Linked DNA regions of Homo sapiens. The protein of the gene in region 4 purifies or fractionates together with the protein of the main gene of each other region. This does not show direct contact. Each region holds a gene or a part of one and is shown on either strand. Other genes may lie near its edges. The genes, in order: DSG2, AMZ2, MRPL39, PAK5, CREB3L2, DMD and ALDH1L1.

Region 1 (4,534 bases), on a different chromosome or scaffold from region 4:
CTCTGTGAGGGCAGCATGCTGTCTGTTCTCTTCACTGCTGTATTCCCAGTGTGTGGAACAGAGCCTTGCATGTAGTAAGCGCTCAAAAAAGATGTGTTGCATGACTTTGGGTTATGGGCACAAGGTTTTTTACAAACCCAGTTTATTCCAATCAATCCTGCTTTGTACATTCAACTTATCAGAGCTCCGCCTCCCTGATATTCCCCGCTTGCCTTGTTTCTTCGTCAGCACCAAAAGTAGGCAGACCCTCTGAGCACTTCCTGTCCTTCCTGACCGTAAGATGTTCTCAACCAGTCCTGCCTGCCCTACCCACGCTCCAAAGACCTCGGGTTTCCTTTTATAAAAGAACAAGGGACTGCATCCTGAGGTCACATGAAATATCACTCTACTTGACCACTGAATATGGACAGAGGGCCGCCTCCAAGGCAGCCTAGGCTAGTGCAGTGACAGAGGAGAGGTCTGTTAGACAAGGGGTCCCCAACCCCCAGGCTACAGACCAGCACCTGTCCATGGCCTGTTAGGAACCAGGCCGCACAGCAGGAGGTGAGTGGTGGAAGAGTGAGTGAAGCTTCATCTGTATTTACAGCCACTCCCCATCACTCGTGTTACCACCTGAGCTCTACCTCCTGTTAGACCAGTGCTGGCATTCGATTCTTATAGGAGCTCAAACTCTATCGTGAACTACTCATGCCAAGAGATCCAGGTTGCGTGCTCCTTATGAGAATCTAATGCCTGATGACCTGTCACTGTCTCCCATCACCCCCAGATGGGACCATCTAGTTGCAGAAAAATAAGTTCAGGGCTCCCACTGATTCTACATTATGGTGAGTTGTATAATTATTTCATTATATATTACAATGTAATAATAATAGAAATAAAGTACACAATAAATGTAATGCACTTGAGTCATCCCAAAACCAACCCCCCTACCCCTAACTTCCCTGTGGAAAAACTGTCTTCCATGAAACCAGTCCCTGGTGTCAAAAAGGTTGGGGACTGCTGTATTAGAGCCATTGGTAGATGTGCAATTGAAAGCACAGCACTCAACAGTCTGCAGTGTACTTTTATACCATCATCTCCATGCTATGGCTACATATACAGATACATAACGGTAAATGACTTGTCTCAGCTTACCAAGTTTGTAGGTAGGTACTGGAGCTGGGACTGTATCTTTTGCTCAGGGATTCCTTGCACTGCTTTCTCATCTCAGATTCCCTGGAGCCTAATGTGGTACTTGGCACATAATAGACACTTGATGAATGTTTGTTAAAATTGTTGAATTGCCACTGGCTGATTTCAGTCTTCTTATTAATCGTAGTAGCTGTAGTTAATGTGCTGTTGACTGTTTGACATAAAAACGAATCTAGGCAGTAGCCAGTTCATCATTGGAAGCTGCCAAATGGGAGTGGCAGATGGGCATGCAGGTGTGTTTAATTCTTTACTACATTGATCAAGGGGTCAGCCTTGGTCTTTGCTTCCTCCTAGGGGTAAAATAAAATCTAAGAAGAGGGCTCTGAAATTGTTATATGTTTCACTTTATTATTTCTAATTACTGTTTTCAATAGTACATATATTTTTGCAACAGTGATTTTTTTTTAATTGGACCATAGTTTTAAAAAAATTAATCTTTAAGCTGGTTTTGATGATTTGGATACTATCTGAACCTAGTCTTGGTATTCCACTCAGCAGCCACAGACAGCCTCTTTTTGATGAACAAGGCCTTGAATCTGTAAGACTCCCTCATCCTGCCTTCGGGTTTTGGAGTAATTCACCCAAAACAAGCTTGGTAAGGTTGGATCAGGGTGAAGAAAAGAAAAATAGAGCTGTAAATAAGTGAAGACAAGTCCAGGAAGGGACATGCAAATTCCAAAATTGTGCAATATAAATTTAGAAATATATCAAGGTTAACCTTATCTGTGTTCAATTTTGTGTCTGTACAGTGGTACCACTTTTACTGCTGATGTGCCATTGCGGAAAGGGCGCCAAAGGCTTTACCCCCATACCTGGCACCATAGAGATGCTGCATCCTTGGAATAATGAAGGAGCACCACCTGAAGACAAGGTCAGTGGATCAGATGTCAATATGACTTGTCTTCTTCTTGGGTTTTAAAGGGGCCTAGGGAAGTGTTTCTTACATGTTTGGTTGAGTGAGTAAAGTGATCACTATGGATTTCACTCATGTGCCTTTGTTAAGCAAAGAGTTCAAATGACAGCATATTTTGTGTTTGTTGCTGGGGCAGAATTGAGATAGTTTTACTCTGTTTTGACACTTCCCATGTTGTAGAGAATGTAGAGCAAGGTTCAGGAAGAGCAAGAGTGTGTAGGAATCTAAGTCTTTTGTCCTAACATTAAATGGGCAGTTTTCATAACCAGGAACTGCTTCATTTCCATTTCCCTCAATACATAGGGTTTGCAGAGGTAAGCCCACAACCCCCATGACACTTGTAAAATGTTGCAAAACCCCATTTCCCAACTACATCATAGCCATATCCCTTTGTCTCTCTGTTGCACCTTCACCCTGGACCTCTCACCACCATCTGTTATGAGCACCATTTCTAATAGGATAGGATTTAGCATCAGGTGGCAGAGAACTCAGAATAACAGTGGCTTAATCCTAAAATGGGCATTCCAAGATCAACATGATGATTCATCCGCAGCATGGTCCCCAGTTCCCTCTTCCTTGTTTTTCTTCCATGGTTGAGTTCCATTCCCACACTGTCCTCATGTCCTAGTTCTAGCTACCTAGCTGCCGTCCCCACATTCTAACCAGCACATGGGAGAAAAGTGAAGAACCCTCTTTAAGCACACTTCCCGGAACTTGTGTACACCATTTCTGCTTCATTCACATTGACCACAGTTTAGTCAGGTGGCTATACCTAGTGGCATCAGAGGCTTAGAAATATAGTCTTTATTTTGGGTGGCCATGGATCCAGGTCAAAACAAAGTTAAGAATTCTGTAACTATAGAAGAAGGTATCAAACTGTAGAGGGAGGTTGAAATGCCATTGGTCGCATAGAGTAAAGGAGCTGAGACTGTTTGGGCTTTGTTTTCTCTTTGGGTTCTATCCACCTATAAAACAAGAAGAGAGAAGAAAGGAGATCTTCATAAGACTTACATAAGTTATTCAACTCAAAATACTTTTTCTAACTGGCCTCAGTGGAAATAGCTTATACCTTCCTATGCCCACTTGACTCAGATCCTTCTACCAAGGATGAAGGATTCCCTCCATCCTCCTGACTCAGTTCTCAGCTGTGTTTGCTCTCACAGGTGGTGCCATCATTTCTGCCAGTGGATCAAGGGGGCAGTCTAGTAGGAAGAAATGGAGTAGGAGGTATGGCCAAGGAAGCCACGATGAAAGGAAGTAGCTCTGCTTCCATTGTCAAAGGGCAACATGAGATGTCCGAGATGGATGGAAGGTGGGAAGAACACAGAAGCCTGCTTTCTGGTAGAGCTACCCAGTTTACAGGGGCCACAGGCGCTATCATGACCACTGAAACCACGAAGACCGCAAGGGCCACAGGGGCTTCCAGAGACATGGCCGGAGCTCAGGCAGCTGCTGTTGCACTGAACGAAGAATTCTTAAGAAATTATTTCACTGATGTAAGGATGAGTTTTATGTATTGGTGGTGGGGGGTGGGGGGAACATTTGTATGTGAATGTGATATTATTAGGGTAATCATTGCCTTGGATCCAAATGAGACTTTGGGTTTTTTTTTTTTTTCTTTTTTCAGGGAATACTTATAGGCAATAAGGAAAGAGAAATGGGACCCACAGAATCAGTCGGTGTTAGCTAAATTATGCTGCAGTAACCATGATCTTAGTTCTCACACAGGCATATTTCTCACTTACAGTTATGTTTTTGCCAGTCAGTCAGCTCTGCTTTCCTTCATGATGTCTTCATATCAAGATGCACACTGAGAGAGCAGATTGTACCTGGGAAGCTGCCGTCCTTGTGACCCAAAGAAAAGAACAAGGCAGAACCAGGCAATGGCTCTCAAAGCCTCCACCTTTTTACACCACATTTCATTGACCAAAGCAAGTCATATGACCAAGACAGATGTCAGTGGGTCGGAAAGTTGCATCCCTCTGCAGGAGCAGGCTTGGTAGGGATGAGCTCCGTAGGAGAGGCAGAGGATATATAACCTAAAAAACACAATCTATTAAGTCCATTTAAATTTTACCTTCTGTATGAGAGTACTTGGCTTTGCTATTATGAGGGTCCACCAAAAAATGATGAGAAAAGTTCCAGGAAGATGATCAGATGCAATAAGGAAGCTCATGCTAGAATTGAGGAATTAGAAGCAGAACTGAAAATAAAAGTATAATGTAGAGGTCAGGCACAATGGCTCATGCCTGTGATCCCAGCACTCTGGGAGGTCAAGGCAGGCAGATCACTTGAGCCCAGAAGTTCAAGACCAGCTTGGGCAATATGTTAAAACCCTATCTCTCCAAAAATACAAAAAATTAGCTGGGCATGCTGGCACACACCTGTAGTCCCAGCTACTCAGAAGGCTGAGGTAGGGGGATCACTTGA
Region 2 (4,340 bases), on a different chromosome or scaffold from region 4:
TTTAGAGTTGGTTTTGTTTCTAATTTGAATCTTCTTACTCATAGACTGGGTAAACACTGAATAATCATCTTAAAGTCTGTTTTTAAATGTTCTTCCATATTGTAGGCTCTCTAGGAAACACCAGAATTATCAGTGAAGAATATATTAAATGGCTCACGGGCTACTGTAAAGCATATTTCTATGGCTTGAGAGTAAAACTCCTAGAACCAGTTCCTGTTTCTGTAACAAGATGTTCCTTTAGAGTCAATGAGAACACACACAACCTACAAATTCATGCAGGTGAATTACACGACTTTGCAATTCGAACTGAGTATATGTATATAATATACACTCATACATTTATGTATTTCTTTTTAAATAGGGGACATCCTGAAGTTCTTGAAAAAGAAGAAACCTGAAGATGCCTTCTGTGTTGTGGGAATAACAATGATTGATCTTTACCCAAGAGACTCGTGGAATTTTGTCTTTGGACAGGCCTCTTTGACAGATGGTATTCCGTTTTTGGCATTGTTGTTAGAAGCTTCTTCAGCTTGAGAATATTTGAAGATGTTAGAAGAGGGAAAAAATTCCAACCAAGAATCATATTGATATTTAAAATATTTTCAGTTGAGACATTATGCCATAATGGGAAGTGTGCTGTTGGTAGATTGTGATAATCTAGGTTCTGGTTGGCCACTCACTACCTACAGGACCTTAAAGGTAACAATACCCACATCATGGAGTCATTTGGAGATAATTTACATAAAAGTGCCTGTACATAAAAAGTGTGGATAAGCCTGGACAACATAGACCACATGTCTACAAAAAAATAAAAATTTAAAAAACTAAATTAGCTGGGCATGGTGGCACATACCTGTAGTCCTAGCTACGCAGGAGGCTGAGGTGAGAGGATTGCTTGAGCCCAGGAGGTTGAGGCTGCAGTGAGCCATGATCGAGCCACTGCACTCCAGCCTGGGCAATAAAGTGAGACCGTGTCTCAAAAAAAAAATGTATATATAGGCCTGGCATATATATAGGCATACAGCATAACAGCTAGTAAATGTCAGTAATTCAGTAGCAAGGTGAATTAAACCAATTACAGTTTGAGCTATCAATGGATGTGAAAATCTTGCTAATTATTTTTCAATTCTTTTCATAGTCATCTTGCACAGTTAGAATAGCCATAGACTAAGTGTATGCTTCTTTCTCATCATACGACATTTGTTTTTTAATTTAAAGAGTCAAAACGTCCATCTTTGATTTGAGATATGTAATAAACCTTGACTCATTAGGAACTCTGTATGGTAATATTAGGGATGGGAAAGGTTCTGCAAACCGGTCATATTTTTAACCTTTTTTTTTTTTTGTCATCTCTCTACTTCTCCCCTCCCCTTAATTATTGTTCTTATTTCTCTAACTTCATCCCTAAGAATCCAACACAGACTTGAAAGGGAAAAGGCCCCCTAAGGGGAGTGGTTCATTAGTGTTCTGGGGATGGGGAGTAAGTACAGGGACTATCCTGAGAGTTTATGGTCTGTCTGGATGTTACATTAGCCTTAGGATTTGTGTGGGGTGGTAAGCTTTTTGGGACAAATGTTTCTACTAGAGGTGGGGGCTGTAGGGTTATAGAGCCTCTTCCCACTTACTCCTTTATTCTTTATTCTCCATTTATGTGAGGTTTCTTGTGGCCCCCATGGCCCTACCAGCATGCACTCTTGGAGACGTGGGTCACTACTTTCTTACTGATTTTGGTGGTGTGAGGTAGCTTTTTATCATAAGTTTTCTCTTTTATTATTAACCTGATAGAGATGGAAACATTGAAAAATAATTCTATCTACCTTTTATTTTTCTTTTGAGACAGAGTCTCCCTCTGTCACCCAGGCTGGAGTGCAGTGGTGTGATCATGGCTCACTGCAACCTCAACCTCCTGGGCTAAAGGGATCATCCTGCCTCAGCCTCCCGAGTAGCTGGGACCACAGGACCACCACACCCGGCTATTTTATTTTATTTTATTTTTGGCCAGATGGGATTTTTTTTGGCCAGATGGGATCTCCCTGTGTTGGTCAAGCTCATCTTGAAGTCCTGGGCTCAAGCGAGCCTCCCATCTCAGCCTCCCAAAGTGCTTTGATTACAGGTGTGAGTCACCACACCCAGCTAAAAAAATAATTTTAAAACCATATGTTCGTTTATCTAGATATTGCTAGCTAACTTATCTTATGTGTTTGAGGAGGTCAGGAAACATTTCCCCAAACTGTATTTACTTTAATTCTTTTTTTGGTAAGTTTCTTAAATATTACATGACATAAAAGATTTACATAGGAAAGTAGCAGGATTAGACAGTGACAATATCTTAACACAGTGGTCTTGTTTTCTCCGAGTTTACAAAGATTGATATTTTTAAAGTGAGACGCATTGACTACGAAAAAAATAGTCTATTTGTAGGATTATTGGAAGAAGGAAATGTCCTTGCTGAAAGTAGTGAAATATGCTCACACTTGATTGGCCAGAGGGGGTTACTTGTGATAAAGGAATAGATTTAGTGTGCTCTTAATTTCCAGAATGCTATCTTTGCTTAATTTTCAAATATCAGTCTACATTTTCTGGGTAAAGGGAGGTGAGGAAGTTTGTTTTTGAATCAAATTAGATTGGACAAATCTACTATGGGTTTATTACTTTAAAAACTGAACGAGAGACATAAATAAAAGTGATCATGTAAACAAGTCGAATTATGAAGCAGTACCCTGTAGGGTGAGTTATGTAGCAAACCGTGTTCTCTGTGCTTGCAGAGATGGTTGATATAACTCTAAATGTAACACAGGAAGTCAGTTACAAGGGTATTTATTCTGGTCACCAGACACTAGTGACAGAATAGAGTTGAGCTGTTCTTTGAAAAGGGGGTAGGGTTGGGGAAGGGGACGAGGTTATTCTGTCAAAAGCCGTGGTTTAAAGCATGGGCTTCAAGACATCAGGGGCAGTTGTCCTCAGTCAGTGCTGCGTGAGGGAAGGCCAGCAACCCCTCCAGACACACGTGTAACAGATCTGTTTAGTGTGTCCTTAAATAGTGAAATCATGACTTCCTATTGTTCATGTGATTTTTTTTTTTTTGAGACTGAGTATCACTCTATCGTCAGGCTGGAGTGCAATGGTGCGATCTTGGCTCACTGCAACTCCGCCTCATGGGTTCAAGCCATTCTCCCGCCTCAGCCTCCCTAGTAGCTGGGATTACAGGCACCTACCATCATGCCTGGCTAATTTTTTTTAGAGACAGGGTTTCACCATGTTAGCCAGGCTGGTCTTGAGCTTCTGACATCAGGTGATCCACCTGCCTCGGCCTCCCAAAGTCCTAGGATTACAATCGTGAGCCACCACGCCCAACCCATGTGGTTATTTTTTATGATTCCTTTTTGAGTACTTGATTTGGAGTACTTGCTACTTTCAGAAAAAGACTTCTTTTGTGGGAAAAGACTCTCTGAAACTTCAGTTTCTCAAGCATTTGACCTCAAGTCCATTAAGTTTTACAAGGCAAGGCAAAGTGGATAGCAGCAAAAGATTTTGATAGGGAAATCTGGGGCAAAAGTCTTCCTTTTTGGTGGCAAACCATAAGTGTATCAGATGGTGTGGACACAGTGACACAGAGATGCACTCACTGGCCAGATGGGCCAGCAGTCTCTTCTTTCTTTGGTCTTTCTTCAGGGACCTTACTCTCATTCTGTCACTGTTTGTCCTTTTTTTGTAGGTGTGGGGATATTCAGCTTTGCCAGGTATGGCAGTGATTTTTATAGCATGCACTATAAAGGCAAAGTGAAGAAGCTCAAGAAAACATCTTCAAGTGACTATTCAATTTTCGACAACTATTATATTCCAGAAATAACTAGTGTTTTACTACTTCGATCCTGTAAGGTAAGTTATTACAAAAATCTGACAGGACAGTTCTTTAAAAGAGATCTTAGTTCCGTAAACTGTATATTGTCAGTCCGTAAGGTAATATTATAAATGAGTTTGTATCATTTGTATAATTTTGGTGCATAGTGCTTGACTGAAATGATCAGTAAAACAATTTAAATGGATACCTTCATATTGAAATTTACAATATCAGTGCCAGTTTTTCTGTACTACTAGTTACAGCCTTGGCTGTACCCATGTGCTATTAGTGTAATTCTGAATTCTGGTATGAGTGGGTAACCTACTTTTTCAAGCTACTGTGGTCATTGGGCAAAGCTGCTTTCCCCAGGCCTTTGGAGAACCTCTGCTCTGGCCTCTCTGGGAGCCTGGGCCTTCCTGCCCTGGGCTCCAGGTTACCCTCGACTGTAGTTGTCCTGGCAGTTCCTGATATCCCCAACTCGGTTTTGTGGAAAGCCTAT
Region 3 (3,697 bases), on a different chromosome or scaffold from region 4:
CTAGTCTCTTTGAGTTTCCATTTAATGTTAGGATAATATTTTCAATGTCAACAGAGTCTTCCTGAGATTCTGATAAGTCCATTAGACCTGTATAGCAGTTTGGGGAGAATTGACATCTTTAATATGTTGAGGTTTCCAGTCTATGAACTTACTGTATCTTCTTATTTATTTATATCTTCTTTCATCCCTCTCATTTTGTAAAATTTAGCACACCTCTCCTATACATTTGACTTTGACTTTTCTCCACATACCTGCTTCCTTTCCTAGCCTTCCCAATTTCAGAAAATGGGATCATCCTTTAACTCAAGCTTGTCCAACTCACAGCCCATGGGCTGCATGCAGTCCAGGACGGCTTTGAATGAGACACAAATTTGTAAACTTTCTTAAAACATTATGAGGTTTTCTTGCGATTTTTTTTTTTTTTTAGCTCATTAGCTGTCATTAGCGTTAGTATATTTTATGTGTGGTCCAGGACAATTCTTCTTCCAGTGTGGCCCAGGGAAGCCAAAAGATTGGATACCCCTGGTTTCCTTAGTTGTTTAAGGTAATCCTTGATTCTCTTTTCCCCTCATAGCCATGCCCCAGCCCATCCATCCGCAAGTCCTTTCAACTTTTAACTCTGAAACATATTCTGAATCTATGCACCTTATAACATCTCATCTACTACTACTTCCCTTATCCAAGTTCCTCTTTGTTTTCACTCACCTTCCTTGCTTTCACTCTTGCCATCTACAGTGCATTTTCCACTTAGTAGCCAAAGTGATCTTTTTAATACACAATCTGTTATGTACTTCCTCTGCCCCAAACTTTCCAATGGCTTCCCTTGAACAAATCCCAACTCTTTACCCTGTCTCACAAAGCCCTGCATTATCTGGTCCCTGCCTGCTTCTCTGACTTTATCTAACACCACTCCTTTCCTCACTCACTATATTCCAGCCACAGCTTAAGGTCTCTGCACCAGCAGTTCATTCCGCCTGAGTCAGGCATGGTTTTCCCTTTAAACATACCAGTCAGCTCTTTCCCTGGAAGGGTTTGTATGTTGATATTTATTAATTTTACCTTTTATTATAGATTTTATGAGCTCATTCAGTGTGGAGTAGTCACTGGCCTGCCCATATGTCTTGTTACCACTTTCAGTTGACCTAATAAAATTGATGTGGTCATGATACACTTTGCACAGTTTTCTTTAATGCATTCTGATAATCCTCTGCTACAGGAGGTTGTTATGGACTAAGGAAATTGAGTTTAAATTTTACTATTGTCTTGGGAGGCTGAGGCAGGAGAATTGCTTGAACCTGGGAGGCGGAGGTTGCAGTGAGCTGAGATCGCACCACTGCACTCCAGCCTGGGCGACAGAGTGAAACTCCATTTCAAAAAAAAAAAAAATTTACTATTGTCTTTGTTAGGTTTTACTTATTCTTTAGGGTAACTTGATGAATCCTCTGCTTCTGCCATTTCAGTGTGAAGATGTCACAGTTGGTTTTTAATGACTGTCTTCTTGTGATTGCTTATGATTTGAAGAATGACTTCTAGAATGTTGAAACTGGCTGTTTAAGGATTGAACCACAGTCTATGGGAAAGTAGGGCAGATTTTTGCTTCCTATTAGAAGAAATGCTTTCTATGATGGAAATGATTAAGATGGGCAAAAGTGAAAGAAGGGCACGTTCAATCCTTAAGCGTTTTTTTCTTAAATGCTCACTGCAACCTCTGCCTCCCGGGTTCATGCGATTGAAGAAAGCAAAAAAGCAGCTATCCCCATGTAGCACCTTTTTTTGCTACTATGATCCACTTTTATAACCACTTATCTAAATTAGTACTGCCTAGCTTTTTATTTATTTTGTTCTAAAAGCTATATAAAGACTCTGTCCTTTTTACTTTGACATTACTGCTTCATTTAGTTCATCGCAAATCTTTTCTTTTCAAGGCACATTTTACAATATGGGATAAGCTATTGGAAAGATCTCGGAAAATGGTAAGTGTTTTTGACAGCTATTGAGTACTCTTCTATAAAGAAATTCATCAAAATTAACCAATAACAACCAAAGGGGGGAAAAATGAAAGAAACAAAGAGAAAGGAAAAAAGTAAGTTGTCTCAATAGTCAAAGCAGTGTTGTGATTGTTCACTAGTGTGTTGGTAAGGGTAAAGTTGTAACTTGGCAGTTCTCTTTTGATTTTATTTGTTAATATCGTGAAAATGATATTGTAGAACTTGAAGAGAAATAAGAATATTACTATGTAATAGTAATAGTTCTTAATAGTTGTAATGGTATCAGTTAGGTCTTAGGATTTATTTTGTAAACTTAATGAATATTTAGAGGATTAAGATTTGTCAGGTGTATTTTAAAGCCGCCTTTAGCCATTAACAGTAAATGTGCAAATATCCTAATGTCCTGAAAAACCAGATTTGAATGTTTGTGTTTTTGTAGTTTATTCTTTGTCATTAGCATTTAGACTTAATGAGTAGGAATGATAGTATTTCTTTTCTTTTTTTTTTTGAGACAGAGTCTTGTTCTGTCTCCCAGGCTGGAGTGCAGTGGCGCGATCTCAGCTCACTGCAACCTCCACCTCCCGGGCTCAAGCGATTCTCGTGCCTCAGCCTCCCAAGTAGCTGGGACTATGGGTGCCCACCACTACGTCCAACTAATTTTTTTGTATTTTTAGTAGAGACAGGGTTTTACCGTGTTAGCCAGGATGGTCTCGATCTCCTGACCTCGTGATCCACCCCCCTCAGCCTCCCAAGGTGCTGGGATTACAGGCGTGAGCCACCGCGCCCGGCCCGGGTGATTGTATTTCTTGACCACAACTATTCCTGTTTCCTATTTCATAGGCTAAGTGTGCCTCTTTTACTTAGGTTATCTGATAGCTGTCCTGTGTAATCTGTCCTCATTAGGACTTCCTCCTTATCCTAATTTCCCACAATGCCACAAACACTGGTTAAGCTTGCAGGCACATTAAGCATCACACATTAAACTTATTTTCAAGTTTGCTTATTTCTTCATGATAGTTTTTCTTTCTAGACTCCATTTCCCATTCTCCTTCTATTTACTACGCAGTCATTCTTCACTACCTCGCCTGAGTCGTACCTCCTCCATGGAACAGTCTCAGAGTAATCTCTAACAAATAATTATTCATATAAGTTTGTGCTTGATTGTATATGTCCACATACTATTTTTTGATTGTTTTCTTTGCCAGTACATTTATTTTCTGTCTGTTAAGCCTTTCAGGATTTGTTATATTTGTGTAAGCCCAAATTTTGAACACAACATTAGCACATGAAGGGGTTACCCAAGAAATATTTATTGACAATTTTTCATAATGATATATAAACCTAGTCTTTATTAATGACTATGTAGATAGGAATTATTGTTTAGGGACTTCACCATAATGTTCTTGAGTAAGGGTTATATAATTTTTTTTCTCATGAGAAGAAATTACCTTTGAATGGATGGAGTAATTTTCTCTTTTTAGTTGGTCACAGTGATCATTTTAGATGAAGAAACTAAAGAAAAAATGTTCAGCATGTTTACTTGGAGTTAAGTAAAATTAAAAAAAATTTAAAAAGCTAAAGAATATTAAAGAAATAGTTTGGAAAATTAAAGAAGCAGTAGTAACTGAACACTTTAAAGGAATGAAAAATGTAGAAAAACGGCAGAGACAGTGTCTTACCTAGAATATCTAGTGATGTTAGTCAATACA
Region 4 (4,534 bases):
TGCCCTCTTCTGCCTGCAGGACATTTGGCAGTGTCTGGGTATATTTTGGTTGTTAGGAGTGAGGGAGGGATGCTATGGACGTCTAGAGGGGAACGGCCATGGATGCTGCTAAACACCCTATGATGCACAGGACAGCCTCCCACAATGAAGAATTACTAGGTCCAAAATGTTCATAGTGTCAAGGTGGTGGACCCTGCTACAGAGTGAAAGGGGATGATGCAACCTAGTTGTGAAATTAATTGCTAATTAACTGCTAATGCAACTTCATTGCTTCAGGTATTAAAAGGAGCTTATAATCAGGCAGGTTGCAGGCTTTGCACCCACAGAAGCTGCCCCTGTGCTACTGGAAATGCATGCAATGTCTGGTAAAAGGCTTAAGCCCAAAGAGTTGGATCCCAGCTCTGCTGTGAGCATACTAAGCCTCTTAAAACCCATTTCCTCATCTGTACAAAGGGGTCAAGAATTCTTGCCTTACAGATCTGTGAGGCTCAACAAAACATGGCATGTATCTGGTACACAGCAAATGCTTAATGAACTGGTGGGATTGTTATGCTGGGGGCTTCTCAGTAGGGAACGGATGTGCTGGGCCAATACAAAGACACAAGTAGGTGGCTGCCTGGTCTCTGGAGAGCACAGGAATCAGCAAAGTCAAATACATGGCGGCAATTTCTCCAGCTAGCTTCCTTCCGTGGAAGGCAGATTTGTCTGCAGGCGAGGGTGGAAAGCATTCTCTCTCCACATCTGGCAGTTTTCATAATTTTGTGGTGGGTATGGTGCTATATGGTTTTTGTTTGGCTTTGCTTCCCACCCTCCCAACCCCAGGGTTTCATCTGCTTAGTTCCAGCAAAATACACTTAAATGTAGGGAGAGGAGGCCAACATCAACAAACTCATAACATTCTTGATTCCTGTCCTGCTAGCAGGGAAATTAAGTAGGTAGATAACATTGAAGGATTTTTTTTTTCTGTGGGTTAACATTAATCTTTTTTTTTCTTTAGGACAAAATGTAAAACTGTGTCAAACACACACACGTGTGTACACACACACATGTGTACACACACATGACCCTCCTCATTTCTGCTTCATCTGGAGACCTACACAAGTTTTGTGCTTCCTTTTATTACTGGAGATGAAAACATGACCCAGCCTCCTTTAGGAGTCTCTGCAAGCAAGGCCGACTCATCTGAGTCGTGACCGCTATTTCTTCCCTCAGCTGGAAATCCAAATGTGATTGGTACACTCTAAGAGTACCGTTCTAAAGACACAGGCACCTCCGTCTTTTCAGAGAAATGTTGTATTTTTAATCAAGTGAACGTTTTAATTACTAACCTGCCTCCCACCTCTTATCCTCCCACAAAACAAAAACCTGCTCATGAATCTCTCACGAGTTTCCTGTGAAACATGGAGCAGCAGCTTGCTTCTTTGTATTTCTGATCGTAAGGGCTGAACACCCTTGGTAGAAGTTCCCATGAGTGATTATGCTGTTTTTGTTGTTGTTGTTGGTGGTGGTGAGCCACAATAGTTTGTGCATTGTTTCTGGGCTGGCAGAGCCAGATTTCAGGGCAGGTCTGCTTTGTCTTATATTTGGAAGTCTGCAGAATAGAGGGAGCCTGTAGGGAATTAAAGTGAATCACCCCTCCCACCCTCGTTCTTCTGTCACTTAGACGAAAGTTCTGGTGGCCACTGGGACTTCTCATGGATTTTCTTGGCAAATGCAGTTGAGTCCCCGAGATAACATACGCCCAAATAATAGGAAAATATTGAGCAGGGAGAAACACCAGACTTGAGTTCTTGTCCTTGTTTTGCAACCAACTAATTATGAAACTGTAAGTGTGTCATGTGGCTCTCTGGGCCTCAGTTTCCCCTTCTAGGAAATGAGTGTGCAGGGATTGCTGGTGGTGACATTAAATCCCAAAAGCCCATGCTATGTGAAAATGTGGACTCAGGGATACCAGTTCATCCTTTTTAAAAAAATAAAAATAAAAAAGAGAGAAGACTGAAACTCCAGAATTAAGAGTTCTAAAACTCTTGACCTCTAAAACTATTTGGACTATAGACATGTGTAGCCCACCCAATATTCATTTCCAACATCCAGGAAGAGCCAAATAAGGCTCCAGGACCAAAATGCAGCATCATCTGGGCAATGTTTTCTCTGTAACTATGACCCCAAACAACTCCCTAACACAAATATGCAAATAAGCCACACGCACACAAAATCTTAGATAAAAAAATAACCACTGATATTCAAAGCCTCAGGATGTAACTCAATTCAGCTATAGAACATGTTAACTTATTTATTTCATATCACTCACAGAAATGCACAAGTGATATGCACAAGAAATGGAATAAACTATCTCATGTATCATGAGACATGCGTATGAGTTCAAGTAGATTTTGCTTGTGGTTAATTAGACCTCTTTCCAACAGTCACCCTGGCAAGCACACAGGAAGAGAAAGCAGTCATGATATCCTGAGTGTGGGTGTTCAAGTACATTAATACCACGAGATAAAAAAAAAACACTGTCACTATGTGAATTTTAACTGGAGGAACATATCTCAGGCCTCTATTTATCAAGATTTGTTTTTAATTTTATATCCTGGGAACTAAGGTGACAGCTTTTTTGTTTCTTCTAAAGAATGGCTGAAGTAACTCCAACAATACACTTAAATGGCTTCTCTTCAACATCTTGGATGAGGTTAATGAGAAATAAGAAGCAAAGGAAAAATATCGACTATCTATAATCAATAAATCAGGTGAATGCAGGCAGGCTTGGGTTCCAGAGTTTTCTGTGCTGCTCACCAAACTGTCAAGAGTTTGGTATAAATAAAGTACATGACTGCCCTGTGAGAAGTCATGTCCCTCTCACCTGCTTCAAGACCTCTATGTAATCCACATTCCACACCCTACGGTCCATGTTCTTTTGCTGGACAGGTAAGGTAGCAAAAACATTTCTAAATGACAGGGAAAAATAAATCACTTGCACATTCTCAAAGGTATTTTCCAAGACTTTAGACCTTCGGACCCATAGACCTTTGCCTGTGCTTTTAGTTTCAGTAACTTCTCCGGCAGTGATTCCCAAACTTTAGGATATCATAGACCAGTCAAATTTCAAAGCAAACTTGGAGCTGCTAACATTTAAACAAAATTTAAAAGAGGAATTACTACAAAACAAAGTGAAAAGGGGACAAAAATGGTCCAGCGGTCCAGCAACCATCTGTCACCCCCAAATTTCATATAAAAACCAATATTTCAAATCAAATATAGTAGAAAGTACATACTCTTAATATGAAGGGCCATCCCCTGAGTTGAACAAAATTGGCTTTATTTAAAAATTACCATGTTATACTGAGTTTCTTTCCTTTTTAGCAGGTCTATGCAAACTTTGCCAGGATGTAGGAACCACTGGATGGCTCGATCTAATGCTCTATGATTGTATATGACTGATCCACTCCTTAACAGGGAACTTAGTCAAATACAGTCACATCATATTTATCACTCATATATCAGAATTCTATCTTTCAAATCAATAAGTTTATTCGCCTTTTAATGAGAAACCACGTAGGAGGGCCCAAAAGATAGATTTTTATTTTAATGAATATATATGCCTTATCCTAAACCTCTGCCCTGGGGCCTCACAAGTGGAGATAGGGTGGGTTTTGATATTGATTTTCCCTTAAAAGGCAAACAAGTACTTTACAATCCAATCGTATAAAAAGGTCGTGCCAGCACCACCCCTGTGGAGGTTTTTGCACACGTGAGGGAAAGGAGGTAGCAAACGTTACCTTTGGAATGCACATTGTGGGCTCGGACAAGCGAGGGTAGGTGTAGGAGTTGTAGGAGTGTCCTTGGGGATGGGTTTTAAATGCACTTGCTCCAAATGGCATCATCGGTTCCTGGAGTCCCGAGCCTGACCTGGACCTCTGCCGCATGGTGGGCTGAGGGCTTGTCTGATTCAGGTACGAAGACTTTGGCCTCCTGTCATAGTCATCCAGGCTGGGTCCCCATTCACTTTCACTGTACGCCAGGCTCTCCTTGGAGCACCCGCTGGTCCCTGCAGTTCTAGAAGGTGTGAATTGGAATGAATAATCCAGAGGGGAGCTACTCGAGGCTCTCTGATACTCCCACTTGAGGTCACTGTATTCACTTGGTTTGCTCAGTGAGTCCAAATGTGAGTGATAATCGGCAGAAAATCTGGCAAAATCGGATTTCAAAGGCTTCACCTCAGAATAGTAGGCCTCCCCGTGCTTCATTTTCATTACGTGCCCATTTTGCTTGGCTGCGTGGCTGCCTCTATAATACGGATCCAGATCATCTCCATAGAGACTCTTCTCCCTGTACTTTTCGGTCGTGTAGTCAGCAGTAGTATCGGATTCGCTGGAATACTGGGAGAAGGTGATGAAGCCATTTTCTTCCGCGTGGCCTGGACCGTGGCTGGAGGCTCCCTGATCTGGGGTGGGTGGGCTTTCTTTCCTTAGGGAGTTGGAGCGAGTCACCGAGATGTTGTCAAAATCCTCTAGCAGGCCGTTGATGGAGG
Region 5 (4,534 bases), on a different chromosome or scaffold from region 4:
CCACCACTCCTATCCATTTAAACTGCTGAAAGCAAAATCATTCTTGTGGCCAACCTGTCCTTAATTTGCTCAAATTGGGAGAACTTGTTTCATTGGTACTAGCTGGGGGTGAAGATGTAAGCCCAGGAAAAATCTGCTTGTCCTTCTAGCACCTGAATGCTATTCGGGGGTAGACTGTGGTGAGAAGCAAGTTATCTGCGAAAGCCCACAGCATTCTGTGAACAAATGATTTGATGATGTTTTCCAGTGAACTTATGTGGCTGTCTAACATTGTTACATCACAGCACACATTTTCCGAGAATCCTTGAGACCCAAGAGAAAGCATCTGCTCATAAAATCTTTCCACTTTGCCATATGCACTGGGTTTGGGGGTGGGGGATGAGGATGAGGAGGAGCTTCAACTCTTTACACCACTCACAGGGAACTCTTCCCGGGTGCTCTAACTCAGGAGGGTGTGTTGTCAGATCCTTTTCTATGCCTTGCAGTGTTCAGAATTTGCAAAGAATTTTACCATCTGCTCTGTGTGCTGATGTCACACAGAGCAGAGTATATAAGACTGTTCTTATCCCTCAAACTTTGCCTTTTAAGGAGAGGCACAGTTGTCCAATTTTAGGGATAAAACGTCTCCTTTTTTTTTTTCTGCTCTTGCTCTCTTGTCTTTTTCCTGGAGAAAGGCTAGAATCTGTTTCAAAGGATGGTTTTAAAGACCCTTGACTCTGGGCTTGAGGGTCCAGTTGAGCAGGCATCTTTGTTCTTTCATATGTTGGCTTCGTTTCCTGACTCTGGAGGTGCTGTGAGCGTTTAAGAACCACAGGCTTGAGCTGCAGGTGGCTGTTTGCCTCTCTGCCTTAAACAGAGCCGTTCTTGTTTTTCCTCTCCTTTCTCTCTCTCTCTTCTAACCTGCCTGTGAATGCCTGTTACTCTGTGTTGGCATTTCCAGTCACAGCCCCCACCTCTGGCCTTTCTCTCTCTCTTCTAACCTGCCTGTGAATGCCTGTTACTCTCTGTTGGCATTTCCAGTCACAGCCCCCACCTCTGGCCACTCCTTCTGTTGTTCTCTGCTGGTCATTTTTTATTTTTCCTTCTCTTTGCCTTTGTCCCTTTTTTATGTTTTTGTCAATGTTTCTCATCTCTTGCTTAAATGAGTTCTTCTTTTAATCGACATTTTCTTAGTCTGTTCAGGTTGCTATAACAAAATGTAATAAACGAGGTCACTTACAAACAACAGAAATTGATCTCTTACAGTTCTGGAGGCTGGGAAGTCCAAGATAAAAGTGTTGGGAGATTCCGTGTTGGGCGAGGGCCTGCTTTCTGGTTCACAAAAAGCAGCTTCTTGCTGTGTCCTCTCATAGTGGAAGGGAAGCACTCTAGTCTTTTCAGCTCCTTATAAGGGCACGAATCCCATCAATGAGGGCTCCATTTATGACTTAATCATCTCCCAAAGGTGCTGCATCCTAATACCGTCACATAGAGGACTGGGTTTTAGCATAGGAATTTAGGAGAGACACAACCATTCTGACTTTAGCCACCATCCAATCAGAGTGTTCCTTTTCCTTTGTTCTCAATCGCTGAGAAACAAGCCACAGCCTGTCAGGGGTAATGTGGAGGCAGTTACCTCTAACTCAGGGCAGTGCAAGAACAGGACTTTCAAGTGTGAAGGCTGATTCTGAGCCCCAGTGAGCTCTGTGACAATGGTGCTAGAAGGTACTGGTGTTCGTATCTTCTTCCAGAGGAAACTGTCCCTTGGGGCTCTGTTGAAATGCAGGCACAAAGGCACGGCGGCCTTCTTGGGTCACATGGAGAGATCAAAAAGCATCTCTTCTCTGTCAGACTCCCCTCACGGCTGTTGTTATCATTGGCAGGACTCTCCTTCAGCAACTCCAGAAGCTTCAGACTTTGGTGATGGGCAAGGTTTCTCGAACCTGCAAGTTAGCTGGCACGCAGACTGGCACCTGCCTCATGGTGAGCTTCCCAGCAGGGTAGCACAGTGACCGCCCCTGGCCTGGCCCCTGTCTCCCCTCTCCCTCCACTTGCCAAGGCCAAGTGCTGTGCTGTAGGAGAAACCACATGGAGGAACTCCACTCTGAGGCTGTTCCTCGGTGAGGCACTCTGGTGATGTGACTGGTGGGTGCAGTCCACTGGCCTGAAGAGGAGAGTCTGTGTCCCTGGGTATAAAGCTGTGCTGTCCAGAGGCTGAAGTCCACAGCCCCTCGTGTTCTCTCTCCCCTCTTTCTCTCCCACAGGTTGTGGTGCTGTGCTTTGCCGTTGCATTCGGCAGCTTCTTTCAAGGCTACGGGCCCTATCCTTCTGCCACCAAGATGGCTCTGCCCAGCCAGCATTCCCTGCAGGAGCCCTACACAGCCTCCGTGGGTAAGACAGCATGTGGCAAGTTGGGCAGGGTCTTGTTTTATTTCCCTAGAGCTGGGTTTCTCAGTCTTCCAAAAGGAATCTTCTGTGAAAGTCCAATGTTTAAAAAGTGGTAAAAGTGGAGCTTCTCCCTTTGAAGAGGCAAGTGGGGGTTCCCCTGGGGCCCCTCATCCACTGGACTGCGGCATCACTGGGAATTCTCCAGAGCTTGACAGAGCACAGTTTGCAAACTGCTGTTCTAGACTGTGTTCCCTGATCCATTCTGACATCTAATTTTTGAGTTCTGATAAGGGAGAGGGAAGCAGATGAGGGAAAGAGTCTGTCGCTTTCTGTGACGTTTTAAGAGAACTGCTGTGTTTCTGCCTCCACTGAGTGGAATTGTATGAGTAATGTAATGCAATGTATATAGTAAGGGCTTGTAAAGTGAAATTAAATAAACAGCAAGGTCAGGGCCGGGCGTGGTGGCTCACGCCTGTAACCCCAGCACTTTGGGAGGCCGAGGCGGGCAGATCACGAGGTCAGGAGATTGAGACTATCCTGGCTAACACTGTGAAACCCCATCGCCACTAAAAAATACAAAAAAATTAGCCGGGCGTGGTGGCAGGTACCTGTAGTCCCAGCTACTGGGGAGGCTGAGGCAGGAGAATATTGTGAACCTGGGAGGCGGAGTTTGCAGTGAGCCGAGATCGCACCACTGCACTCCAGCCTAGACGACAGAGCGAGACTCCATCAAAAAAAAAAAAAAAAAGAATCAGCAAGGTGAGGAGTTCAAGACCAGCCTGGCCAATATGCTGAAACCCCGTCTCTACTAAAAATACAAAAATTAGCTGGGCATGGTGGTGCATGCACCTATAGTCCCAGCTACTTGGGAGGCTGAGGCAGGAGAGTGGCGTGAACCTGGGAGGCGGAGGTTGCAGTGAGCCGAGATCGTGCCACTGCACCCCAGCCTGGGCGGCAGAGCAAGACTCCATCTCAAACAAACAAACAAAAAGAATCAGCCTGCCTTCCAAAACCTTATGCCCAAGATCTAGAGAATATGGGGACTCCGGTGTCAGATAAGAAGCGTATGGTGTTCTCACCTAGAAATAAAGGGATGGTGAGTAAGGAATACACACACAAATTCACACCTACACCTATAGGAATGAGCATGGGGTTAGGCAGTACAGTAGTCCCCCCTTATCTGAGGTTTTGTATTCTAAGCTTTCAGTTACCTGTAGCCAATGAACATACCTGCAGTTACCTTAAAATAGCTGAATACACTATAGTAAGAAACACTACCTGCAGCCAATAAAAATACCTGCAGTTATCTGAAAATAGCTGAGTACACCACCATAAGAAATTTTGAGAGAGAGAGGCCACATTCATGTAACTTTTATTAGAAGATATGGTTAGAATTGTTCTATTTTATTATTATTGTTAATTTCTTACTGGGCCTAATTTCTAAATCAAACTTTATCATAAGTACATATGTATAGGAAAAGGCATATGAACCCTACATGCTATATGCCCATATATAAACCCTGTATGGTTTTTCCCATACATATATACCTTATACCATATATATAGGGTTCAGTTCTATCTTCGGTTTCAGCCGTCCACTGGGGGTCTTGAAATGTATTCCCCATGGATAAGGGAGGACTACTGTACTGGATTTGGGATAGGGAAAATTTTGCCATCTTGAAACGTCTGTGGTCTTCACCAGGCAGGTGTGTCTCTGCCAGGTATGACAGAAGTGCTAGCATTCCAATTAAATAATTTCAGTGGCCTGTTGAGAATTTTTCCCCCCAAGGAACTATCTCTCTAAATTTAATTGGAAGCATAGTTTCTATGTCATGGAAAATTGCTACAGAGCCATCTAGCTGTGTGACTGTCCTACAAAACAAAGGAGATTGTCTCTATCCTTTGATTTATGGCTTTGGCTTTGTGTCTCCTCTTCCCTTTCTAAATGAGATGCCCTGTACCTCATCCCCCTGCCAGACCTACTCACTGGGAATGCTGCTTCTTTTAGCTGGGTCTGGACATCTCCAAGTATTCCACTCCCATTCTCCATGAATCATTTTCCCTAGATGGTTATGGGTGGTAAGGGGGGAGTTTTATATTTTCAAAGCAGTGGGGGTGGTAGTTTGCCTTGTGTTTATTTGCTTTTCTATTGTTCTTCCAGCACTGT
Region 6 (4,534 bases), on a different chromosome or scaffold from region 4:
TAAAGGTGTTCCTATAGGACCAGATGATTTTTCCAATAATTTTTACCGTTCTACCATTAAATAAAAATAATGAAAAATGCTGATGGTATAATCAGCAGAGACCAATGGAGAAGGTTTTTCCATCTTGCTACTGTATCAGTGAAGTGAGCCGATAGCTGAACCCTGAACCGAACATGCCTTTTTAAATTTCTACAAGCAATTATACTTGTAGATATGGGGAATGAATCAGAATGTATTCTTCATCCTTCCCATCAACATGGGGCATGACTTCACTGGAAGAAATTAACTCATTATACTCATTCTTTTATAATAAGGAAATTAGAGTAGCATTTACAAATTATGGCTAAGAAGTAGACAGCAAATTTGTTTGAAATCATGGAAGTTAGTGCTTAGTATTTGGACTATTTATACTGGAGCTATCAAATGTTACAAAGTAACATATGGAAAATAATATGTTAGACATTGTGAGAATTTATAGTTTAATTGGATTTTACTTATGTCAGATATTTTCCCCTCTATCATAAAAACCCTTAGTGCCAAGTATATAGTTTGCGTTCACCTTCTCTTGAATCTCCTGAAGGTGGACTTACAATCATGTCATAGGTCAAGTTAAAACTGAGTGTACACAATCTTGCTTTTTCTTCAGCCCTAAAATCGATCCTAGCAGCAATCACATTACTACATGACTGAAAAACCTAAAGTGTCTGAGTTATAATTTAGTGAATTTAGTCATTGAATTTGAACTTGCTCCTTCAGAAGAGTAGATCTTCTAGAACCCTCTCCACTTCTCACCTCACAAGGCAGAAGAAGGCATGTATGCTGAGAATCGGATGCTTTTGAAAAGGAGGAAATGCCATATCTTTTCAGCTGTTTCTTTCCATCTCGCCAACCCTATAAATAAGGAGCTCCCTTTGAGAGGAATGAGTACAGGTATAAAGACAATGGCCAAGGCAATAGCTCTAGGTTGGTTCTCCATACATCTGAAGATGCAGACATTCTTGTGTTGTGGGAAACTATTAGAGCCAGAGAAAATGGTTCGTCAACAACCTCATCAAATGTATTCTTTTAGTTTACAGTAAGAATTCCCTGTTCCTCTATGGCAGCCTTGTATTCTAACTTTCATACCTTCTCGTTGCTTCGTACTTTGTCTTTAGTCAATCCAAACCATCCCATGCACACTCCGCCTTCAAGTGTCACCTTTCCCTTGTAGTCATTCATGCTTATTCCAGCCATGGCTCATCTGTTTCCAAAAAAAAATGTGATTTTTTTCTAGTATGATATCAAATTGTTTTATTGCATTTAAGCTTTCCTCTGCAGCTACACTGTAGGCATGATTAGAGTGAGGTTTGCAAAGATTACCTCATTCCTCATCTCTGGCAGTGAATAGCACAGTACAGACTGGATATTAGGCACCTGATATACATTGGTCAATTAGTATTTCAGATCTCCAGAAAGCAAGCTCAGCATAGTATTTAAAGGCTAAGTCTTATTTAAGTCTTATTTCTTAAGTCATATCTTTGATTAAAAACACATTTGAGGGAAAAATTTAAGGCCTACTAAATTAACACAATATTTTTTCCTAACCCAAAACAGCATGTATACAAATGATTGAATACTGGTTCCTTATTGTTGAATAGCATACATAAAAGTTTAACTCTAGGTCTCTTTTTTTACAGAGTGTAAATTGTCCTGTGAATCACTTTTGACCATTAGCAGTTATAAACCACCATCATATCACTGCTTTTTTCAAATACAAGTTGATAATGGTGATAAATTGAACATCTTTTAGTTTTAATTTATAATTTTGTGGAACTTAAGAAGGCACTAGAAATTAGTCCACATTTCCTATTTTGTTCCCATCAACTGAACATCACTGGACATTGTTTAAATTAGCTGGAGGAATTTGGCCAGATGTTGACACATAATGGTTTCTGTGACCCAGGAACTACCTGCAACATTATCCCCTAAGTTCAAAACTTTTGTGATCTCTTCTGAGTTTTGGAAAATTCCATTGCCTTTAATTGCATTGCTTGTCATGTAAGAAACAAAATCTATGTACACAATAACTTTTTACATTGATGCTAAAATATAGTGTCATCTTTATGAAGACTTATTAAGAGATAATTAGTAATCCAAATATAAATTAAGCTTCAACTTTGTGAAGGGTTACCTTTGTGAATAAATCAACTACAGCGAGATGCCAGTAGACTGGAATATAGAAAGTAGATAATTCTCATTTGCGTATATGTCCATCTCTTTGACAAACTCATACTTGGATATAAGTTTTTGAAGGATGGGGACTTCTCTACCGTTTTATCCCACAGAGCCTAGTAACAATGGCTAACATCTATGGTTGTAGAGGTTGTATACTACAAAAGGTTGAAGTCAAAGTATTAAAAGGAATAAAATCTAGTCTATGTCTACTCTGAAGTTAAGCTCTAAAGGGTCTGTATCTACCCAAATGAGAGACTTCTAATAATCTCCCAGAATATATTGAGGAGAATTACATATGATTCTGCTACAGTAGTAACTGGCATATAATAGGAGCTCAGGCAACACTTACGATTGATAAATGAAGAAATTGCTTTTATGAATTGCTAAGCTCACCTGTGTGCAACAAATAGCACCTACATATGAAGAACCCCATGCATGATAGCTGTCGAGTTCATCTGGCATTAAGTACCTTAATTTCAGGCATGTTTTTATTGAAAAAATGTGACATAAAACCATATCTTAGAATTGAAGAAACAGTGTTTTTGTCTTGCATAAAAATTTTTATACATTGTTTCCTCATTTATTTCTCCTGTTTATCCGATGCCAAAGGCAAAACCAAAACAGAAAGTATGAGAAGTGATTTCGAGTGGACCAGGACCTTATGGCGTGGCAGAAAGACAGCCACAGGACTACTTAGGTATATTATAAAGATAGAAAAGACATGTTGAGAGTGACTCTATGAGGCCAGCCTATACCTAATTTCTTACTCTTGTACTGTAATTTTTTTCTTAAGAAATTAGATGTAGGCTGGCATTACAGAGCTGCTCCTTGTGTGTTTATTAATTGATTATTTGTATCTGGACTTTCTCCACTTTCCTGTTATTGCTGTTTCTCAATGATTTTGTTTTGCTTTGGCTTTCTGTGATTAAGACATCAGCTCCACTCGCAAATAGCTTTTCAACTCGAGTGCCAATCACAGTCTCTGTATCTGTTAACCTTATTGAGAAAGGAGAAAAAGGGTCTGTTGGGCTCTGGCTCAGCTCTCTGTGAATGTCCCACAGCTGGCTAACTAGACAGGCAGGGAAAGAACCAGGCACAGACTCAGTGGAATGCCGAGTGGCCACATTGTCTGTCAGCCGTGCCATGTACCAGGAAAGGGGCTTTATGCAGGGCAGGTAGTAAACCTTTGTACTAAGATCACTTTTTCCATCACTACTCTCTATCTTTTTTCATGTTAAATGTGATTGTTTTCATGTTTTATAAATCACCTCTTAGGAAATAGTGGTATTCTCTTAGGAGATTTTAGTCTAGGGTATGTGGATAGAAATAAGGTCTGTGAACTTGGATTGGGGGAAAACTTTATCTTTATTTGTATTCAATTAAAACCAAAAGTAAGCAGTTTTTTCAGTTAAAATGTGAGCAACAAACTCCAGCAATAGAGATACCCATGACTTTGTCACTAATAGAAATGACAGATACTTTTATAACGTGTTCCAGACATTGTACATACTTAAAAATACCAGTTATGCTCGTCATCACTACATTGAAATTATCCTAAAGACCTGATGCTAGATCTTGTTAATTAACATATTAGGAAATAAAACATGTATTACTACATCACAAATATTTAAAAAATGTGTTGCACATTGTATTTCAGTATAATTGTTTTCATTTAAAATCCTATGTATTTTGTTTTATGCATTTAAAAGCATTATTATGAGAATGGGTTTTTAAGCTTCAACAGATGCCAAAAAGATCCATGGCACTAAAAGGCTAAAAAAATCCCTGCTGCAGAAATACAGTAGCACCATACTGTAGAATTTTCTAAGGGCAGTTTCTTATTTGTGGATGGATTTTCAAATATCTGCCTTTAGCCACTACATGTATAAATTAAATAAATATAAATATATTTAGTTGAACAATATGTATGTTTATTAAATATTTATAATGAAAAATAAGACATGAATTATGCTTATGTACATATATATGTTCATAGTTACCCAACAATGAAGCTTCAGTATATATGGTATGGTTTTCATGATTCATTAATACATAGTTATAGGTTTAAAACCTTGCAGAATCATAGTAACCATACAGAAAGCCGTTTCATAAGCATTAAATCTTAAGACTACAAGACATTACTTGAAGGTCAATGCTCTCCTTTTCACAGGCTACTCAAAAAGAGATTGAGAAACAGAAGGTGCACCTGAAGAGTATCACAGAGGTAGGAGAGGCCTTGAAAACAGTTTTGGGCAAGAAGGAGACGTTGGTGGAAGATAAACTCAGTCTTCTGAATAGTAACTGGATAGCTGTCACCTCC
Region 7 (4,534 bases), on a different chromosome or scaffold from region 4:
TTTCTTGAGAGTTATTCTTTGATTTGTTTACATGTTGTTTAGAAGTGTGTCATTTAGTTTCCATTTTTTTAATGTTTTTCAGATATCTTTCTGTTATTGATTTCTAGTGATTCTGTTGTGATCTCAGTAATCTCCATCATAGAAGTCATTGATATTTGTTGTTGTATGTTTTATGGCACAGAATGTGGTCTGTCTTGATGAATATTCCATGTGAACTTGAGAAGAATGTGTATTCTGTTGTTGTTGGGTGAAGTATTCTCTAAATGCCAATTAGATACACTTAATTGATGGTGCTGTTCAACTATGTCCTTACTGATTTCCAGCCTGCTGGATCTATCAGTTAGTGGGTACTGGCCAGGCACGGTGGCTTACGCCTGTAATACCAGCACTTTGGGAGGCCGAGGTGGGCAGATCACCTGAGGTCAGGAGTGCGAGACCAGCCTGACCAACATGGAGGCTCTACTAAAAATACAAAATTAGCCGGACGTGGTGGTGCATGCCTGTAATCCTAGCTACTCGGGCGGCTGAGGCAGGGGAATTGCTTGAACCCGGGAGGCGGAGGTTGCAGTGAGCCGAGATCGTGCCACTGCACTCCAGCCTGGGCAACAAGAGTGAAACTCCGCCCCCCCAAAAAAAACGTTAGTGGGGACTGACAGAGAGGTGTTGATGTCTCCAACTGTAATAATAGTGGATTCATCTATTTCTCCTTAAAATTCTGTCAGTTTTTGCTTTACACATTTTAGCACTGTTGTTAGGCACATACATATTAAGGAGTATTATGTCTGCTGGGATAATTGACTCCTTTACCATTATGTAGTGCTTCTCTTTATTCCTAATAATTTTCCTTTCTCTGAAGTCTGCTTTATCTGAAGTTAATAGAACTACTCCATATTTCTTTTGATTAGTGGTAGCACGGTATATCTTTCTCCATCCCTTTATTTGTAACCTATCTGGTTTTTATGTTGAAATGGGTTTGTTGTAGACAACATATAGTTAGGTCACGATTCTTTATTCACTCTAGATAGTCACATGTTTTAATTGGTATATTTACACCATTGATATTTGAAGTGATTTTTTGATATAGTTGGATTAATATTTACCATATTTATTACTGTTTTCTATTTGCCCTTTGTTTCTTTTTTCTTCCACACTTTTTTCTGCCTTTTCTGATCTTAACTGAGCATTTTATATGATTCCATTTTCTTTTCTCTCTTAGCATATCAGTTTTACTTTTTTGTTGTTGCTTTTTTAGTGGTTGACCTACAGTTTGCAATATACACTTAAATCTAATTTAAGTCTGCTTTTGAATAACACTATACAACTTTATGGGTAGTGTAAGGGCCTTATTGCAGAGTATTCTTGATTCCTCCCTCCCATGCCTTATTATTACTGCTATCATTCATTTCACTTATCCATAAGCTACAATCACTGAATACATTGTTGCAATTATTATTTTGAACAAATTGTTATCTCTCAGATTAAGAATAAGAAAAAAAATTATTTCACATTTATTTCTAATACTCTTTTGTATGTTGAGTTTCTGACTTGTTTAATTTTCCTTTTTTTCTGAATTACTTCTTTTAACATATCTTGTAAGGCAGTTTACTGGTGACAAATTCCTTCAATTTTTGTTTGAGAAGTCTTTCTCCTCCACTTTTGAAGGACAATTTTACTGCATACAGATGGAATCTAGTTAGTTCTAAGTTGATGGAATGTTTTCAGTTCTTTAAATAATTCTTTCTATTCTATTCCTGATTGCATGGTTTATGAAGAGACGTTTGATGTAATCCTCATCTCTCTCCCTCTATAGGTAAGGTGTCCTGCCCTGCCTCTCCCTGGCTTCACTGAAGATTATCTCTGTGTCTTTTATTTTTTGCAGTTTGAATATGATATGCCTAAGTATAGATTTTTTGGGGGGTGGGGGGTGATCTTTATCCTATTTGGTTTCCTCTGAGCTGCTTGGATCTTGGTTTGGTATCTGTCTTTAATTTTGGAAAATTATCAGTCATTATCACTTCAAACATTTTTACTATTCCTTTCTTTCTTTTTATTCCATCTGATATCCCTATTACAAGGATTTACACCTATGGCAATTGTCCCACCATTCTTGGATATTCTGTTTTGTCTTTTTTATTCTATATTTCCCTTTGCATTTCAGTTTGGGAAGTGTTTGTTGATATTTCATCCATCTCATTGATTATTTCCTCAACTGTATCCAGTCTATTGATAAACCTATTAAAGACATTCTTTGCATTTATCACAGGGTTTTTATTTCTAGACTTTTTTTGATTTTTTTCTTAATTTCCATCTCTCTGCTTACATGACCAATTTGTTCTTATATGTTCTCCACATTTTTCCATTAGAGCTCTTAGCATTTTAATTATCATTGTTTTAAATTTTCCATCTGAAAATTCCAACATTGCTTCCATATCTGATTGTGGTTTAGGTGCTTGTTTCATCTTTGCAAACTGTGTTTTTGTCTTTTATATATCTTGTAATTGTTTTGCAGAAAATCAGATATAATGTATTGGGTAAAAGGTACTGAGGTAGATAGGCTTTTAGTGTGAGGTTTGATATTTACCTGTCTAGGAGTTAGAATGTGTTTACTATTTGCTATAGCTGTGGGTATCAGAGGATATAATTTTCTCTCTTCATCTTCTTGTTTTTGTCTACCCTGTTGTCTTTGGGTTTTTGTAGAAACTCCTTAAATAGGCTCTGGCTTGCAGTTCTCTTATCCGTAATCCCCTTGTTACTATACTGGAGCCCTGTGGATGTAGTAGCAAGGTGTTTTGGTGGGGGGAAGTGTTTTACAGTCCTACAATTAGGTCTTAGTGTTTCAGTGAGCCTGCACCCCTGGGCTGTGACCTTCACAAGTGTTTCTCAGTCCTACCCCTTTTAGGTGATGAGAAAGGCTAGAGGGGCTGGATTTGGGTTTTTCCTCATCACTTAGGTTAGTTAGGCCCTGGGTGTCCATTCACTTAGGCTCTGGTATAATAGTTTCTATGAGGGTAGATATGTTGAGAAAAAAATGACTGCTTTCCTTGCCTCCTGCCAAAACCAGAAGGGGATTTTTCTCCAATCCTTACTGTGAGAACTGTAAGAATTAAAGAAAGAGGAAAGAAATACAAAAGCTGGCTTGCCAGTTAAGACATTTATTTTAGAGAAAATCAACCTGAAAGGAGCCTTCTGGCCAAGTTAGGTCAGAGGCACACTCTCTTACAGACTGAGTTTTTAAGGATTCAGGATGGGAGAGTTTATCAGAGGCTTGGACTGCTTCTGTGTCTCTTTGTTGTGCTTATCTGGGAGGGAGAGTTGTGTGCCTGTTTTCATACATTTTTCCTGCAGCTGCAGGTATAGTCCCTGAGTCTGTTTTTACTTATTTATTGAGACAGAGTCTCGCTCTGTCGCTAGGCCGGAGTGCAGTGGCGCCATCTCGGCTCACTGCAACCTCTGCTTCCCAGGTTCAAGCGATTTTCCTGCCTCAGCCTCCTGAGTAGATGGGACTACAGGCATGCGCCACCACGCCTGGCTAATTTTTTGTAGTTTTAGTAGAGACGGGGTTTCACCGTGTTAGCCAGGATGGTCTTGATCTCCTTACCTCGTGATCCGCCCGCCTCGGCCTCCCAAAGTGCTGGGATTACAGGCATGAGCCACCGCGCCCAGCCAAGAGTCTGCTTTTAGCTTTCCTGTCTTAGTGCCCCTGAAGGAAAGGGAATGTGCTTGTTCCTTATTATTAAGGCCCACTGTTTTACTGGGGCCCATCGTATGAGGGTGAAGTTTGGCAGTTACCCAAGATACTTTCCCCCCACCTCCCTTTGTGTCCCAGCTGTCTTATCCGTGTTTTACTGTCTGCTCTTTCTGGCTGCTTGTAGTTAGAAGAGAAGTGATTTCCTTGAAATGCATGAGGCTAGAAAGGGAGCTGGAATTTAAAGTGGCGGTGTTTGTCTGAGATGACAGTACTCCTGCTCTATCATTCCAGACCCTATGGTTATAAAAGGACAAGAGGGGACATGTTCTTTCTAGCTACTTCCTGCTGATGCGGGGGTGGAGAGTTTTTTGGTCTTAGATTGACTGTAGGATCAACACCATTTGTAGATGTTTTTGGGTAGTTGCGAAATGGCCATGATTCTGTCGGTTAAAAATTTTTGATAAAGGTTAATTAGGCAGAGTAAAAACATTAGTCCTAGGCTTTTCAGCAGCATTTTTTATTAGGCCCGACTGGTTGAGACAGAAGTAACTTTTTTTTTTTTTTTTTTTAATGACAGGCAGAGGTGCATGTTTGGAAAGACCCATGTGTTATTTTTTGTTAGTAACTGTTATTCCTGCTATGAGGATAATAATTAAGCAAAATGCTACAGTAATTGAGATTCTCTGTCAGATATTCCACTCTGAGGGTTCACAGTCCTACTGCAAATAGTAGAGTGAGTACAGCAGTTCCCGCGAGGGTGTCATAGTAAATAATTTTCATTAAAAAAGGTTTTAATAGTTGGCTTAAAAGGAGAAGTAGAAACGACAAAAAGTATTTGGTGAGGTG

Evidence for each region.
Region 1: the proteins of PAK5 (region 4) and DSG2 purify together in Homo sapiens (affinity purification with mass spectrometry; one large-scale study listed by BioGRID and IntAct). This does not show direct contact.
Region 2: the proteins of PAK5 (region 4) and AMZ2 purify together in Homo sapiens (affinity purification with mass spectrometry; 2 studies listed by BioGRID and IntAct, with this or other methods). This does not show direct contact.
Region 3: the proteins of PAK5 (region 4) and MRPL39 purify together in Homo sapiens (affinity purification with mass spectrometry; 2 studies listed by BioGRID and IntAct, with this or other methods). This does not show direct contact.
Region 5: the proteins of PAK5 (region 4) and CREB3L2 purify together in Homo sapiens (co-immunoprecipitation; one large-scale study listed by IntAct). This does not show direct contact.
Region 6: the proteins of PAK5 (region 4) and DMD purify together in Homo sapiens (affinity purification with mass spectrometry, with the first as the bait; one large-scale study listed by BioGRID). This does not show direct contact.
Region 7: the proteins of PAK5 (region 4) and ALDH1L1 purify together in Homo sapiens (co-immunoprecipitation; one large-scale study listed by IntAct). This does not show direct contact.

The regions. Positions count from the first base shown.
Region 1 is NC_000018.10:31,539,253-31,543,786, forward strand, and holds part of DSG2 (desmoglein-2 preproprotein), read left to right. Parts: intron 1-1,940; coding exon 1,941-2,062; intron 2,063-2,893; exon of another isoform or gene 2,894-3,069; intron 3,070-3,267; coding exon 3,268-3,600; intron 3,601-3,849; exon of another isoform or gene 3,850-4,143; intron 4,144-4,534.
Region 2 is NC_000017.11:68,250,689-68,255,028, forward strand, and holds part of AMZ2 (archaemetzincin-2), read left to right. Parts: intron 1-105; coding exon 106-279; intron 280-361; coding exon 362-490; exon of another isoform or gene 491-699; intron 700-3,715; coding exon 3,716-3,879; intron 3,880-4,340. UniProt on the Homo sapiens protein: Probable zinc metalloprotease.
Region 3 is NC_000021.9:25,587,111-25,590,807, reverse strand, and holds part of MRPL39 (large ribosomal subunit protein mL39), read left to right. Parts: intron 1-1,925; coding exon 1,926-1,973; intron 1,974-3,018; coding exon of another isoform or gene 3,019-3,111; exon of another isoform or gene 3,112-3,198; intron 3,199-3,697.
Region 4 is NC_000020.11:9,576,363-9,580,896, forward strand, and holds part of PAK5 (serine/threonine-protein kinase PAK 5), read right to left. Parts: coding exon 3,783-4,534; intron 1-3,782.
Region 5 is NC_000007.14:137,882,831-137,887,364, reverse strand, and holds part of CREB3L2 (cyclic AMP-responsive element-binding protein 3-like protein 2), read left to right. Parts: intron 1-1,862; coding exon 1,863-1,962; intron 1,963-2,243; coding exon 2,244-2,370; intron 2,371-4,534. UniProt on the Homo sapiens protein: Transcription factor involved in unfolded protein response (UPR).
Region 6 is NC_000023.11:32,365,050-32,369,583, reverse strand, and holds part of DMD (dystrophin), read left to right. Parts: intron 1-4,384; coding exon 4,385-4,534. UniProt on the Homo sapiens protein: Anchors the extracellular matrix to the cytoskeleton via F-actin. Ligand for dystroglycan.
Region 7 is NC_000003.12:126,170,148-126,174,681, reverse strand, and holds part of ALDH1L1 (cytosolic 10-formyltetrahydrofolate dehydrogenase), read left to right. Parts: intron 1-4,534. UniProt on the Homo sapiens protein: Cytosolic 10-formyltetrahydrofolate dehydrogenase that catalyzes the NADP(+)-dependent conversion of 10-formyltetrahydrofolate to tetrahydrofolate and carbon dioxide.